Linked DNA regions of Homo sapiens. The protein of the gene in region 1 purifies or fractionates together with the protein of each later gene. This does not show direct contact. Each region holds a gene or a part of one and is shown on either strand. Other genes may lie near its edges.

Region 1 (6,773 bases):
GGGATGAGTAACAGGACGTTGGCCAGTTAGGAAGAAAAATGGTAACGCAAGACTGCAGCTGCTGGGACTGAGCCATGGGCCCCAGCCACAGCAAGCTGATGCATGGCTGAGGTAATCAGAGAACAAACATTTCAACCACCCTTTGAGGCAGAGCCAGAAACAACAGTGGACTCTCTCATCAGCAGTCACTCACATTCCAGCGCGTACACAGCATGGAAAGAGGTCAGGGTCGTGCTGGATGTTGAGTTGCAGTCCCTCCATGTAGGCAAACAGTAACCTTTACAGCCTTGTCTTTAAAAAATATCCCTCCCAGATGGTAAGGTCTGGCAACAGTGAGATGCTCCTGTGGAAGACCACAGTTGCTGCTTCTCTAGCCTCACACTCCCCCGCCCCAGCCCAGCCCTTCCCCACACCTAAGACAGGAGCCTCAGGAATGTGTGACAGTCTTGCAGGGACTTCTAAGAGCCATCTCTGCCCCACTGAATGATAAGGCAGACCACTTTCTGAGAAGTTTTTATTGCCTCGAAATGTCAGATCTTACAAATAGAAAACACAAATTATGTTTTTAAAATAAAGCAATAGGTTTGGTAAACATTTTGTTAATACCTTTTGAAGGGTTTATGAGTAAACATCTTTCTCTTTATCAAAAAGTAAAGCACACCCTCACCTCTCTTCCACACTGACTCACTACTTCTGCCGAAAACGTGGACTTCTTTCTTCTATTACATACAGCATGTTCCTTGCATCCATTGCTTGAATCTGTACAAACACACACACACACACATGCAGACACACACAAACCTGGCTCCTCTCAGGCAGTGGCCCAAGCACCACAGTATTGCAGCCAGCACAGGCTGCCCTGATATGCTGAGGCCAGGGCAGTGGCTGGAGCAAGACAGCACAGTGGTCACGATCACAGTTGCCCAATGCATAGGAAAAATTACCAAAACCTCATTTTTAGGAGATATTACCAAAGCCCATGAGTACAGCCAAACAGCAGGCTAGATAGGAAAGATCAGCTTGAGTTGGTTTAAAGGGAATCCCTTTAAGTTTAGAATATCTGATAAAGATTATCGCTCAAAGCAGGTGAGGAGAGGGGTTGGTGGTGCAAATACTGTCCCCAGCAGAGGTGAGATAAGCTTTTAATTCTAACAGGCTCAATTCCCATTTCAAGGGGCACCTTTCCTTCTACCCCTTCCCTCTTATCTCTCAGAAGCACCTTTGGATTTTCAGAGTAGAATGAATCAAGATTAGTTTTCAGCAAAGGTTAGAGTAAGTTGACGGGGATTACCCTGCCTTGGAATAAAACAAGCACTTGGGCTGATGGCTGAGATTCCCAATGCAACATCAAGATAAAGGCATCAGAGGTGACTGTGACACACAGAAGTCCCTGGGGAAGTACTTCTGTAAAAAAGAACCTTCCCATTCCCAACTCAAGCTACCAGAGTTCCCAAATATGTGCTTTCACAAATATACTCAGAAGGTAGCCCCCAGCATGATCACACCTAGGTAGGTAGCCCTCCTGAGTCGGTATCTCTGTCATGGCCACAACAAAGTCTTTTGTCAAGTTTATTATGGTTGGTTTGCTCAGCTCTTAGGAAAGAGGGTTTGGAGACAGACCCGTTAGGCCAGGAAAATTTAGGCCCACAAGTCCCGGTGGAGCTGTTCTGATGGAGTTGTTCTAATGGTGCTTCCTCTCCTGCAGAACTTGAGCAATCAGTCCGATGACCCAGGAGATGACCCCGGCAGAGCAGCTTGCCACTTATTAGAACTGGGCTTCATGAGAGGCTCTTAGGACACTGGAAATTTCAAGTTAATATCCTGAATAGGCTTTCTTCCTGTGAAAATTTTGCAGGCATTGTCCACGATGGATGGAGGAAAAGAGGGAAGGCAAGAGACCAAGCTAGGATTGACTCCAATATTCTCTGCCACCCTGTCCCAACACCAACTCCCATAACCTAAAAGGGGGTGGAGGTGGGAATCAAATTTGCATTTGGTGATAGGTGCAATTTTCTCCAACTAAATCATCCAAGCTCTTACGTGGGTTCTAGGAGGAATAGGCCATCCATGCCACAAATAGTCCCACTGATTCCCTCCAAAAACATCTCTAGCGAAGCCCTTTGTGCTGGCGGTGAGAGCTGTGCTGAAGGAAAAGGTGGGGTGTTCGTGTTCCCTGAGTTGTCACCACCTTCCTCTCAGAGATGATCCTCTGACACAGCAGTGGGCACTTTGCTGGTGTTGCTCTCCTCCTCCTCCTCTTGGAGTTTCTATAAAGCAAAACAAACAGGCAGTGCTGTGGGTAAAGGCACAGCACTCCACCCTGGCTGGAGCAGCTGCCTGGCCATGACTAATCAGTGGGGAATACAAGAGCCGGGGGCCACTCAGCATCCCAGAGAGCCAAGAAAGAGAACAAGAAAAGAAGCAACCAGCCCCTGCCATAAATGCACCCACAAACACACACCACCCAACATCATGAGGTCATCAGAGGGAAAAAGGGGCAAGCTTTCTATGATGCCAAGGCCACCACAAATGATCCAGCTCCGAGTGCCACTCTTTCAGGCTCACTCTCGGGACTGAAACAGAAGCAAAGCCCCTTTTCCCTCCACATTCTGACAGCTGAAAACTCACCTCAACTAACCATCAAATCACTGTCCAAGGTGCCAGGTCTGCGATTCCCTTGGAATTTCCAACAACCCCCACTTGGAGGCAGCCCCAGGATGAGGAATACTTTTTTTTTTTTTTTTTTTTTTGAGATGGAGTCTCACTTTGCTGCCTAGGCTGGAGTGCAATGGCGCGATCTCGGCTCACTGCAAACTCCGCCTCCCAGGTTCAAGTGATTCTCTTGCCTCAGCCTCCCAAGTAGCTGGGATTATAGGTGCCCACCACCATGCCCAGTTAATTTTTGTATTTTTAGTACAAACAGGTTTTCACCATGTTGGCCAGGCTGGTCTCGAACTCCTGACCTCAGGTGATCCACTCACCTTGGCCTCCCAAAGTGCTGGGATTACAGGCGTGACCCACCGCGCCCAGCTGAGGAATACTATCATAATGAACATGCAGTAGATGCCAAAGCAGCATGCATAATTGCATATGTAAGCTCAATGGCTTTAGCTTTCTAGGGGAGGGATGGCACAGGATTCATTTACAGGAAAGTCTTCTAAGTCACACTTTTTAGGTGAGTTTGGAATTCAACATGGCCTGGAAATTATCCTGTGGGGCCCCTAGGTACATACTGCCAACCTGGGCCTTTGTCTACTGTTTTAAGAAGTACTTTGTCTGTGACCTCAAGGGTTCTTCTGATTCACAAGAAGGCCTTGGGCACAGGTGCAGCACCACACAGCCAACACTACTCAAGGCCTAGAGGACATGCACAGGGCTAAGACAGAAGCCAATGTCAAGTGGACAAATGGTGCTTTCTTCCCCAGGGAGTGTCTCAGTGCCTGTTTGTGGTAATGGAGACAGCTGTAGAATCCAACCTTCCCATTCTCAATCTTGCTAACACTTGGCATCAAGTCAGCCTCAGCCATGAGGAGCCATCATTCAGGAAACTAACAGCCTATTTCAGTCACTTAGTCTCCCCTCTCTCTCTGACACACACACACACACACACACACACACACACACACACACACACCACGCCCGCCTCCTCCAAAGCCATCACCTGGAAATCACAATCACAAATGGGAAACAAGTTAGTGGAGACAGAAGTGCAACTACTGTCTATGTGCTAGAAGAAAAATGGAAACCCAAACCAGTAAGATGTTCATAGTCAAGGTCAATCATTACCCTGTCCCAGAAGTCCCATCTCTTTTTCCCTAAACTATACATCTCACTGATTAGAAAGAGCAGGTCTGGCCAGATCTGCCGTGTGCCCAGTCTTCACCTGACTCTGACAATGAATTTGTCCACAGGTCTCTGAGTTACACCAGCTGCCATGGGGTGCGTAATGTCACGGCTCCAGAGGAGGGCTGCTCTGTGATGGCCCTGGCTTCCTTGCTGGTGTCAGTCCCAGCATGACTTTGACCCCCCATAATACCATGCTGCCACAGGTGCCAGGGAGGTCTACAGACACATAGTGAATTATCCAGGGACACAAGACAGGTGAGCACCATTTATTGGAACCTAAGGCTGTTATTCCTACTCAGCGCTATTTCCAGCACCCCACACTCAAAAGAGACTGAGCCAACAATTGTAACCTTGATTAACAAACCTGGTCCATGTACACAAAGAGCTGGCTGCAAGAATAATGAAATAGTGGAACAACTGAAATATTGAGTGAGATGGAAATACACAGTAGACATGAGGTTGTGGTATAATGTAACACTGTAGAAATGTTATCAAGCTATACTAAGTAAGCAGGGTAGAAAACAAAATATACGCAAGCATGTCCATAGATTACAACACTGGAAATGCTACTAGGTTATCTCTGGGAAGCAGGATTATAGGTGATTTTTATTTTCTTTGTTTGCCTATGTCTGCCAACATAAACACAGGTTATAAAGTCAACACAGCAAATCTTATGTCACTTGACATAATACGTCACGTTCCAAACTGAAACCTTTCACTAGGCTATACATATATTTACCCAAGTGTACCAAATCATTTCTCTCTCTCTCTTTTTTTTTTTTTCGAGATGGAGTCTTGCTCTGTCACCCAGGCTGGAGTGCAATGGCATGATCTCAGCTTACCGCAACCTCCACCTCCCGAGTAGCTGGGATTACAAGCGTGCGACACTAGCCTGGCTAATTTTTGTATTTTTAGTAGAGATAGGATTTCACCATGTTGGCCAGGCTGGTCTCAAACTCCTGATCTGCCCACCTTGGCCTCCCAAAGTACTGGGATTACAGGCATGAGCCATCGCGCCCGGCCAGTGTACCAAATCATTATGTCCCCTTGTACACAGTGTGGGTGAAAAATCCATCTCCACAGTGGCCATACTATGGCCCTGACACAGAATTAAAGAATGTCATTCCTGCTGAAAGGCCTTCCCTGTCTCCCCAGTGAATTTCCTGTTCTAGGCTCCTTCTTCCACATGCTTTTCTGCTGCTGCCTGCCAACTCTAGAACGTAATAGCAAAAGACAAATAGTAAAGACCTAAAGATTATCATCTATCTGCCAACACAGATCCTTCAAACACTAAAAATATCCCTTACAGATATCTCTTGCCTTAGAAAATTGGCGAAGATTTTTCAAAATGAAAAATACTCAGTGTTGGCGCTCATATGACTGCCTAGCAATAGAAATTGCTAGTACTCAAAGTACCTTTCTAGAGGACAGTTTAGCAACACATACCAAAGTCTTTGAAATGGGCATGACCATTATTCCATTTCTCCAGGAAATATGGTACTTGAGAACATGCACAAAGATTCAGCTTCCAACATATTAATCACAATATTATTTGTAACAATTCAAAACAACCTTAATGTCCACAGACAGGAAAATTGCTAAATAAATCATGGCTTATCCGTATAAAGGAACACTATGCAGGCATTAAAAGTATGTTGTAGGCCAGGTACAGTGGCTCACTCCTGTAATCCCAGCACTTTGGGAGGCCAAGATTGGTGGGTCATTTGAGGTCAGGAGTTTGAGACCAGACTGGCCAACATGGTGAAACCCCGTCTCTACTAAAAATACAAACATTAGCTAGGCATAGTGGCGTGCACCTGCAATCCCAGCTACTTGGGAGACTGCGGCATGAGAATCACTCGAACCCGGGAGGCAGAGGCTGCAGTGAGCTGAGATTGTACCACTGCATTCCAGCCTAGGTGACGGAGCAAGACTGTGTCTCATAAAAAAAAAGTATGTTGTAAGAGACTAGTTGCCTGATAAAGTGCTTGCAATAAGTGAAAAAAGCAGTTTTATTTCTGTTTAAAAATATGCATTTATATACACACATTCATATATCCACGTATATATTATAAGTGGATACAGACATGCAGCAATCAATGCAAAAAAGGCATCTCATCTCTAAATGATGAAATTACAGGATGATTTTTAAATTTTGTACACTTTTCTGTATTTTTTACTTATTCTACAAAGAGCATGTATTACCTCTATAAGTTTTTTTTTAATTTTTGAAGAAATATCTTACCTTTGCTCTTTCTCAGATTTGAAATTCCTTTCATCATCACTCAGATTTGATACCTAACATTTTGTTTAAAGTGGTTCCCAGCTGGTTAGAACAGATGGAAAACACTTTTCTGTTCTAGGTCATACTCCTGGTCCTCTCCTCTGCTACCTCGCCAGCTCCTGCTTCCTGACTTGTCCTTTCAGAGCCCCACTGGCAATTCTTTGGCTCCGTCCCCATGGCCCTGCCTAAGGAGTTGTCACATGCCAGGAGAGTCACAGCCTTAGGGCCAGCACTGCCATGACAGAGTGGTGGAGCCAGGCTTCCCCTTCCTCCCCAGCCACTGACCCCAGGCTGAAAACAGTGGAGCCAGAGCCTCAGGACTCGGCTCAAGATCCAGTCAGGGGTGCTGTTCAGCAGACTGTGACAACGGTGACACACTCTGGGGATGAGGCCGGGGGCTCCAGAAAGAGGGCAGGAAGTGGGAGAAGAGTCCAAGAAAGGGTAGCAGTAGCAAGAACGCAATGCCAAAGATGCCCACTGAGGAAAGTCTTAGGATGCCATGTGTAAGGGATGAACTGGTCTCCCAGCTATGACAAAACCAGTCCCTGTGGGAGTTCTCCCTGCCCCATCTATGTTGCCACATCCTCATCAAAAGCCTTGGACCCCGATCTCAGCCCCACAAAGCTCCCATATACTCACGTTC
Region 2 (8,362 bases), on another chromosome or scaffold:
TTTGCATGGCCGTGTCGTATTCTGTGGGGACAGATGTGTGTCCACCCACTGGCGACAGGTGGGTTGTGGGCCTTGCGCCCAGTCGGCCGCCCCAGAGCCCGCGTCGCAGGCAGTCTCTGGCCCGCCTTGTGCCCGGCGTGCTGACCGGGCATCCCCGTGCCCGCTCGCAGGCCATGACGCTGATGGAGTACCTCATCAAGACCGGCTCGGAGCGCGTGTCGCAGCAGTGCAAGGAGAACATGTACGCCGTGCAGACGCTGAAGGACTTCCAGTACGTGGACCGCGACGGCAAGGACCAGGGCGTGAACGTGCGTGAGAAAGCTAAGCAGCTGGTGGCCCTGCTGCGCGACGAGGACCGGCTGCGGGAAGAGCGGGCGCACGCGCTCAAGACCAAGGAAAAGCTGGCACAGACCGCCACGGGTGAGTCCCTCCCTGCGGCCCCTGACGGCCTAGAGTCTGTCCTCCGCCTACTGCGGCTCCCGGCACCCGGCCGCCCACTGCTTTCTCTCCCAGCCAGGAGGGACCGCGGCATCCCCCTTTGCTTCTCCTCACCTGGGCCCCTTGCTCTGGTCTCACTTGGGCCCTTTTTTTCCCTTAGCACCTCCCATGCAGCAGCTCTGGGACCCTTCCTGCCTCTTGCCTCGTGCCCCAGGGCAGGCCTAGAATTGGGAACTTTTATTCCGCTCCCCCATAGGCTCAGGGCCTGAGGGTGATCAGTGCTGGGGACAGGGCTCTGAGGGGACACGCACAGTGACCCCCGAGGGTGCTGTCCTTCTCTCTGCGCTGAGATGAGGGGAACATCGGAGAGGCAGAGGGGGGCCTGGAAGAGGCACAGAAGGAAGGCCAGAGCCAGGGCCTGCAGGTTGCACCAGGCATCTGGGCCTGTGTTAGGAGCCTTGACAGTGCCTTCTGGAGGTGGAGGACTCAGTCTGGTGGGTGGTGACCAGCACCGAAAACAAAACTTGAAATAGTGCATCCCACATCGTCAAGCCAAGATCTGTCCCACGAAACATTTCCAGTTATGTGATGGGTGTGTGGGTCTCGGACTGTTCCAGGAAGTGTGGTCTGTGTTGGTCGGGGGCTCACAGCCGTGAAGAGGCTAGTCCGGCTGCTCAGGACTGGGAGGGAGGCTGGAGAATGTCTGCCAGGCTCTTCTGCTCTCCAGGAAGAGTGGAGGTGCCTCAGTTAGTGGGGATACGTGGGATGGGGAGGGGCTGCTAGAGCACTGCCCTGGAGGTGGAGGTGGGTCAGCCAGGCCGGTGCAGACAGGAGGAAGGGCCTGTGGCCCTCGTGGGGTCCGGCTCGAGGGACTGGACTTGTTTGGGGAAGTCTAGGCCTTCTGTTTGGACGGGTCTCATTTGGGATCACCTTTCAGCACCCACGGGGAGACATGGGTGTGACGGGGTGTGTGCGACCCTGCCTGGGACTCCAGAGTAGGGACCCACGAGCCAGTAGATGGGCGTGAACGCAGAGAGAGAGTGAAGTGGAGGGAAGGAAGCCGGTGTGGCGTGGGAGTGCTCAGAGCCAGGGACAACAGGAGGGAGTGTAGGCGGCAGAGAGGGGCTGGTCAGCTCGAGGCAGGCAGGCAGGCAGGTGGGTGGCGGGGTTGGGGTGGACGGAGGAGGGACATTGGCAGTAGCTCGGAGGAGAGTGGGAGCCTCAGGTAAGAGGCCTGAGGGTGGGACATCCTGGCTCGGGGGTCGTCAGACTTTGTGCAAGGCCAGAGCTAATGTCCTCTGCGTTGCTGGCCACGCCTTCCCATCCTAGCTGCCTGGCCCCGTCCGCTGGCGGTTGCTGGGAAGCAGCTGCACCCCTCCGACACTCACCAAGGTCTCCGAAATTTGAATTTTATGTAGTTTTCACGTGTCTTTTTTAAGACTTTTAAGTTGTTATTTAATTTTTTAAGGGTACTCTGAATTTTCGCCCATCTTGGTGCATTCTTTTCATTTCTTCCAACCATTGAAAAATGTAAAGGCCTTTCTTAGACCTTCTCAGGCCAGCTGTGGCTGCCACTGTGGTGTGCTGGCCCCTGTCTTGGAGTGAGTTGTGTGGAGGGCTGTGGCTGGGGAGGAGGATGGGGGCAGCTAGGGAGTGAGCCCTGAGACCCTCAGTGGGCAGGGAAGGGCCTGTGGTCCCCGGGCAGCACCGAGGCTGGGTGCTCTGGTGATGGGAAGGCCCGGGTGTTGCTGGCTGGGTGCCAGTATTACCTGTGATGTGGGAGGTGGGGCCCTCAGGGCTGCTGGGCATTGGATTTAGCCACCACCAGGCTGGGGGGTTAGGGGCATGTGCAAGGTAGAGGTTGGGCAATGGGGTGTAGATTCCCAGCACTCACCTCTGAGAGTCCCTAGAGCTTAGGAGGAAGTCACAGGGGCAGGGAAGAGCAGGAGGGGCCACAGGGGTGTGGTCCTCCCTGTGCGCTGGCCTCACCTGTGCCCCACGCTGCCCTTCCATCTGCCCATCCCCTCAGAAGGCCGCTTACCCACCCAAGTCCGTCAATCCCTGCTGGTTCTCTCGTCCTTTCCTCACTCATAACCCCAGATGGTCACCCTTCGGCCCCGCTCTGCCACCCACATGCTCCCTGGAGCATCCCATGCACCCAGCCCTGCTGGGCACACCACACGGGGGCCAGCCTGGGGGCCCCTGGACCCGGTGCAGGTGGGGCCGCCAGACAGCTGCCTGCTGCGGCTCCGGGCAAGGGGAGCCAGGGCCTGCTCGTCAGGGAGAGGCCTGGGCCTGGGGAGTGGGTTGGGTGGGGACACAAGTACAGGACACAGGTGCAAGGCGGCGTCTTGGAGCTGGAGCAGACAGAACTTGCTGACCAGTGCACAGTGGTTGGGAGGGCGGGGCAGGAGAGGCAGGGTCCGCCCTGGGGCTTTGGAGGCTGGGGCAATGGCCCTGTGCTCGGCGGGCCTAGGGCCTGGTTGGAGCCTGTCCTCTGCACTGTGGAGGGGGGCAAGGGTCCACAGGCCTTGGGGGTGGAGAGAACAGTGTCAGGACAGAGTTTGAGGGTAGGCGGGGTTGCTGAGAGGATGCTGCAGTGGAGGCCGGGGATATCTCAGCAGCCTCCTGGAGGGTCCGGCCCTGCCTTCCTGTGTCCTCTCTCTCCCTTCCCCTCCTGCTCTTGGAACCAAGGGCTCCTCGCTAGCCCACTCCCTAACCCCGACTAGGCCTTGGATCCCGCTGTCTCAATGGATGCTGTTCTCCCCTCTGAATTCCAGTTGTTCCCTGCCAGAGCTACCATTCTCAACAAGCCCTGGAAACAGGCCTGGGAAACCTGGGAGGAAGGACCTCCCATCCCCCAGGGGCCCAGGGACAGACCCCAGGCACGCGGAGAGTCCTGGTGGTGGCAGGGCTCAGAGGTTGCTGGGGTTCCCCACCTGCTTATCAGACTGACTTTTGCTCTGGTCCTTCCCTGATGCCTGGCCCCTCCCGTGGGTGGGGCTGCCTGCATCCCCACCCTTCCTCCTCTGAGCACCTGGCGTCTGGTCTCCGCCTCTCAGTCCTAGTCTTGGCCTGCAGAGGTTGTAGGGTGGGGGACTTGGGGGGTGGGGTTGGACACAGAAGCCCCCGTCTGTCTAGGCTATGGGGTTTCCTGTCTCTCGTTCCCTGGTCTGGGTCTCACGCGTTTCTCACCCGCCCTCCAGCCTCATCAGCAGCTGTGGGCTCAGGCCCCCCTCCCGAGGCGGAGCAGGCGTGGCCGCAGAGCAGCGGGGAGGAGGAGCTGCAGCTCCAGCTGGCCCTGGCCATGAGCAAGGAGGAGGCCGACCAGGTACTGGGCGTGCAGCTGGGGCTGTCTGTCCGCCACCCGCCTCCACGCCTCACTTCAGGCTCCCTCCCAGCCAGGCGTGGGCCTGGCCCTCACTGTCGCTGCTCCACATGCTGTCACTCGTCTCCTCCCCAGTCCTGCCTCATCCTCACCCCGCCGTCCCTCTGCGTGTCACTCTCTGCCTGTCCCTCACTGGTTCAGGGACCCCCAGCCCTCTCTTTCTTCGGCTCTATCTGACCCTGGCTCTGCCTCTGACTCTGCCTCTGGCCCCTCCCGTCATGCCCCTCACACTCTCTCTCCCCCAGCCCCCGTCCTGCGGCCCCGAGGACGACGCCCAGCTCCAGCTGGCCCTTAGTTTGAGCCGAGAAGAGCATGATAAGGTCAGAGCAGCCTCCCTGTCCCTGCCCCTGCCAGGGGCTCCCCTCAGACCAGCCCCGTCGCCCCTTCCTAAGTCACCCCCCACCATCCTGCTGGGCCCGAAGCCCACAGGCTCACGCGTGTTGAAACCTCAGTACCTTCAGCCGTAGGATGTAGGACCACAAGTCAGACAGAGCCTGGGTGGTGGCCAGCACAGCTGTGCCAAGGTTGCTCGGGTGACCAGGGTCCCTTCCTCCCCCCAACGCAGGAGATACCACCGAGGCGGGTGCCCGTCCTCCCCGGGTGCGCCAGCACAGCACCCCACTCCCCTTATCCCCTGTCCCGCCTGACCTTTGACCCAGGTGCCCCATCCCCATTTCATACATTGTCCGCATCCCATCGAATCCTTCAGCCGCTTTCGTTGGGGTGGGAGGGGTTGCTGGGGCTTCCAGGCTGAGGTGGCATCTGCCCGTGGCTCACGTTCTCATGTCTCCCTGGTCGTGCCCGTGCCCCAACAGGAGGAGCGGATCCGTCGCGGGGATGACCTGCGGCTGCAGATGGCAATCGAGGAGAGCAAGAGGGAGACTGGGGGCAAGGAGGAGGTGAGCGGGGCTTGTTCTGCCCTCCCTGGCCCCTGCAGGTGTCCGTCCGTCCCATCGCTCATTCCTGCGTGGCCAGGTCCCTGGAGCAGAGACTGAAACACAAGGTCCTGGAGCTGGGCACCGGGTTTCCAGGCTTGGTCGGCCTCTCTGTGCCTCTCCCTCCCTGCTGGGCTGAGGCCGGTGACTGACCAGGCTGCCCTGCGGCCACCTCCTGTGGTCAGCGCTGGCCATCCCCCTTCGGGCTGAGCACCGTGAGGGCCACCACCGGCCGCCACAGCTGAATGGGGAGGCCCAGAATAGGCCAACAGCCTGGCATGGCCACAGGGAGGAGGGTGCAGGGCTCGCCCCATCTGTCACACTTTGTCGGGCACCTCCTTGGTGCCAGGCCGTGTGCTGCACACCCAGGGCCTGTTGGTGAGCGAGGAGGCATGGTCCCGCCCTCGCGAACACTGTTTCTGTGGCGTCCCCATGCTCTGCAGCTGAGTAGCAAACCCTCCCACAACCTTGTGCTTCCAGGTCACGCTTCAGTACTTCCCTGTGACGGGCCCGCTGGCTGGTTGTTTCGTGTCATGGCTGAGGTCACTCATGCCTCTGGGCCCGGGGTGTCCGCACTGGCCTTGCCCTCCAGCCTCCTCCCCTGGCCTCTCCCTGGTTACTAGTCTGTCCTGAGTGTCCTCATAGCACAGTAGCTGCTGCTGCTGCCGCCCCCCAGGACAAGCTCGTCGGGCTGGGTTGGAGTTGCCTCGTCAGCCTGTGCACTGCTATTGGTCTCAGCAGGTCCTGAGGCCAGCCCAAGTTTGAGGGGTGGGGACAAGGCCTCCTCTCCATGGGAGGCGGCAGACAGCTTGTGGCCATAAGTGATCAGGCACAGTGGGACTTTCTTGGTAGACGGAAAGCCTCTTTAGGTTGGCCTCGGCCAGGGGGTCTCTATCAGTGTCCACCACAGCCCAGTGACCCGAGTAAGGGCTGCCCTGCTGGGGGAGCACCAGATCTCACCCATCTCTTCTCCTGCCCTGCCCTGGACTCAGCTCTTCTCCCCTTCCCATCCCCGCCGGGGCCTTTGCCTCACGGGTGCTGACTGGAGATGTGTGCATGAGTATGTTGGGGGCATCTGCACGTTCTGAGACGGGCTCTGGTTAGCTGGGCCCGTCGTGTGCCCACTTCCAGAACACAGGACCATGCATGCGTGTGCGTGCGGCATGGGAAGACCTGCAGTGCGATGACTGCGGGGTGACAGTGGGGCAATGGGCGTGGGAAGGCCTGCAGCGCGATGACTGCGGGGTGACGGCGGGGCAACGTAGGGGGCATCGTGAGGGGTGCTCAGGTTGACCTGAGTGGGTTCATGGGGGGCTTCCCAGGGGAAGGCATGGAGCAGGGGCTGGCCAGTCTGGCTGGAGAAGGCACGGTGGGCAGAGGGAGGATCGAGCTGCTTCGGGTCGAGCGAGGGGAGGGCTTGGCCTCCATCCTCAGTCAGGGCCGGGCAAGGACCTGGGAGCAGGTGGAGTTAAGGGGCTGCCCTGCTGCAGTGTGGAGAATGGATGTGGGGCAGGAGTGGGGCTGTGTTGGGGCTCCCTGGTGGTACCCTCGGGTGGGGTAGGTGGGCAGGGGTGGGCCGACCCCATGACGGATGAGGAGGGAGGCCAGGTGGTGTGTTTGGGGCCTGCCTCCCTCTCACCCCTTATGGATGGCTGCTGTCTGGACACCCAGGGCCTGGCCGCCTCCCCCGCCACGGGCCCCAGCTTGGTCCCTGTCCCAGGCTTCCCACCACTTCTTCATGCTCCTTCTCTTCTCTCTCCCCCACAGTCGTCCCTCATGGACCTTGCTGACGTCTTCACGGCCCCAGCTCCTGCCCCGACCACAGACCCCTGGGGGGGCCCAGCACCCATGGCTGCTGCCGTCCCCACGGCTGCCCCCACCTCGGACCCCTGGGGCGGCCCCCCTGTCCCTCCAGCTGCTGATCCCTGGGGAGGTCCAGCCCCCACGCCGGCCTCTGGGGACCCCTGGAGGCCTGCTGCCCCTGCAGGACCCTCAGTTGACCCTTGGGGTGGGACCCCAGCCCCTGCAGCTGGGGAGGGGCCCACGCCTGATCCATGGGGAAGTTCCGATGGTGAGTGCGTGGCCCACTTGCATGCAGCCCCTACGCCTGTGTGCACCTGTCTTTGGTTGACTGTGCCCTTGGACAGGGACAGATCGAGCCAGTGGCGCCGGGCAGTGGTGGGGCGTCCTGGGTGCAGGGGAGGGGGCAAGGGCGGGGGTCAGATGAGAGCCCAGCACAGGGTGTGTGAGATTGTGCCTTGGAGGACATGGGGGGTGTGCTGTGGGGAGGGGATGGCAGCTCAGCCGAGGGGCAGAGAGGCTCTGGCCAAGGCAGAGCGTGTGTGACGTAGGCATCTGGGGAGGGCGGTGGGTGGAGCTGGGAGGTGCAGGTGGAGAAGGGGCCTGACACCCAGCTGGACAGGGGAGGGGTGGCCGAGCCGTGGGAGCTGAGGGAGGGCTGGGCAGGTCTGGCAGAGGCTGCGGGGAAGCCCCTCACCCCAGCTGGGGTCCCAGGGGCAGAGCCTGGCAGAGAAGCCCAGTTGGAATTTGAGTGTGTGTGCGGGAGGCCGGGTGGGGTGGGTTTCTGGGGGGCAGGGGGGCTTTTGTGTGAACAGCCACAGATTTGGAGGCAATGGTCCTCCCTAGCCATCTGGGCAGTCAAGGTTGCCAGCCCCTCATGCTCTTCTGTCCTCACCCAGGTGGGGTCCCGGTCAGTGGGCCCTCAGCCTCCGATCCCTGGACACCGGCCCCGGCCTTCTCAGATCCCTGGGGAGGGTCACCTGCCAAGCCCAGCACCAATGGCACAACAGGTACTGGAATGGGGGTGGGAATGGAGCCCCGGGTGGGAGTGAGTGGGAGAAGTTAGTGTTGAGTGTCCTAAGGGAGGGGTGGACGCCTGGACTGGAGGTGGGGGCTGAGGCGGGGCCCCAGGGAGGGGCTGAGCAGAACATCCTGACCCCACAGCAGCCGGGGGATTCGACACGGAGCCCGACGAGTTCTCTGACTTTGACCGACTCCGCACGGCACTGCCGACCTCCGGGAGCAGCGCAGGTGAGCCCCTGCCCTCCCCTGCCCAGTGGCGAGAGGGAGCCTCCCCTAGCTCTTCGGGAGCCCCGTCCCTTGCTGTCTTTGTCCCACTCCAGGCAGGGCCGGCTGGACTTAGGGATGAAAAGTTCAGTTGGGTAGAGTGGGCCAGAACCATCCACCTGTCTTTAAAAGAAGTGTGCATCTTTATTTTAGAGAAATTGCAGACTTAGAGAAAAACTGAGAATTGTTCTCAAGGTTTCCCACCCGAATGTTGACCTCTGACCCGTCTCTGCCTCCACGTTGCTTGAGTGCCTTGCAAACTCTCCAGGTGTCTCAAAGAACACGGACTGTCTTGTCCTGTGCAGTGAGCTGCGTGGACAGGGGTTTGGAAGGCAGCCGAGGCTCCCCTTCCGGGTCGCCACTCACCTGCTGGTGGCTCCTGGGCTGGCCAGGGTGCGTCCTCATGGGTGCTGCCTTTAGCTGCCCTGGCTCCTTGGGGTTTTCAGCTGGCGTAAGCTGGCGCCCATCGCCGGTGACGGGCCCATCTGCTGAGTCCTGAGTGGCTCTTCGTCAG

The links.
Region 2: the proteins of FLVCR2 (region 1) and EPN1 purify together in Homo sapiens (affinity purification with mass spectrometry; 2 studies listed by BioGRID and IntAct, with this or other methods). This does not show direct contact.

The regions. Positions count from the first base shown.
Region 1 is NC_000014.9:75,641,895-75,648,667, reverse strand, and holds the end of FLVCR2 (choline/ethanolamine transporter FLVCR2), read right to left. Parts: coding exon 6,770-6,773; intron 2,268-6,769; coding exon 2,196-2,267; 3' UTR 501-2,195; downstream 1-500. UniProt on the Homo sapiens protein: Choline uniporter that specifically mediates choline uptake at the blood-brain-barrier. Responsible for the majority of choline uptake across the blood-brain-barrier from the circulation into the brain.
Region 2 is NC_000019.10:55,685,226-55,693,587, forward strand, and holds part of EPN1 (epsin-1), read left to right. Parts: intron 1-170; coding exon 171-420; intron 421-3,644; coding exon 3,645-3,769; intron 3,770-4,071; coding exon 4,072-4,146; intron 4,147-4,641; coding exon 4,642-4,725; intron 4,726-6,528; coding exon 6,529-6,832; intron 6,833-7,460; coding exon 7,461-7,571; intron 7,572-7,725; coding exon 7,726-7,812; intron 7,813-8,362. UniProt on the Homo sapiens protein: Binds to membranes enriched in phosphatidylinositol 4,5-bisphosphate (PtdIns(4,5)P2). Modifies membrane curvature and facilitates the formation of clathrin-coated invaginations. Regulates receptor-mediated endocytosis.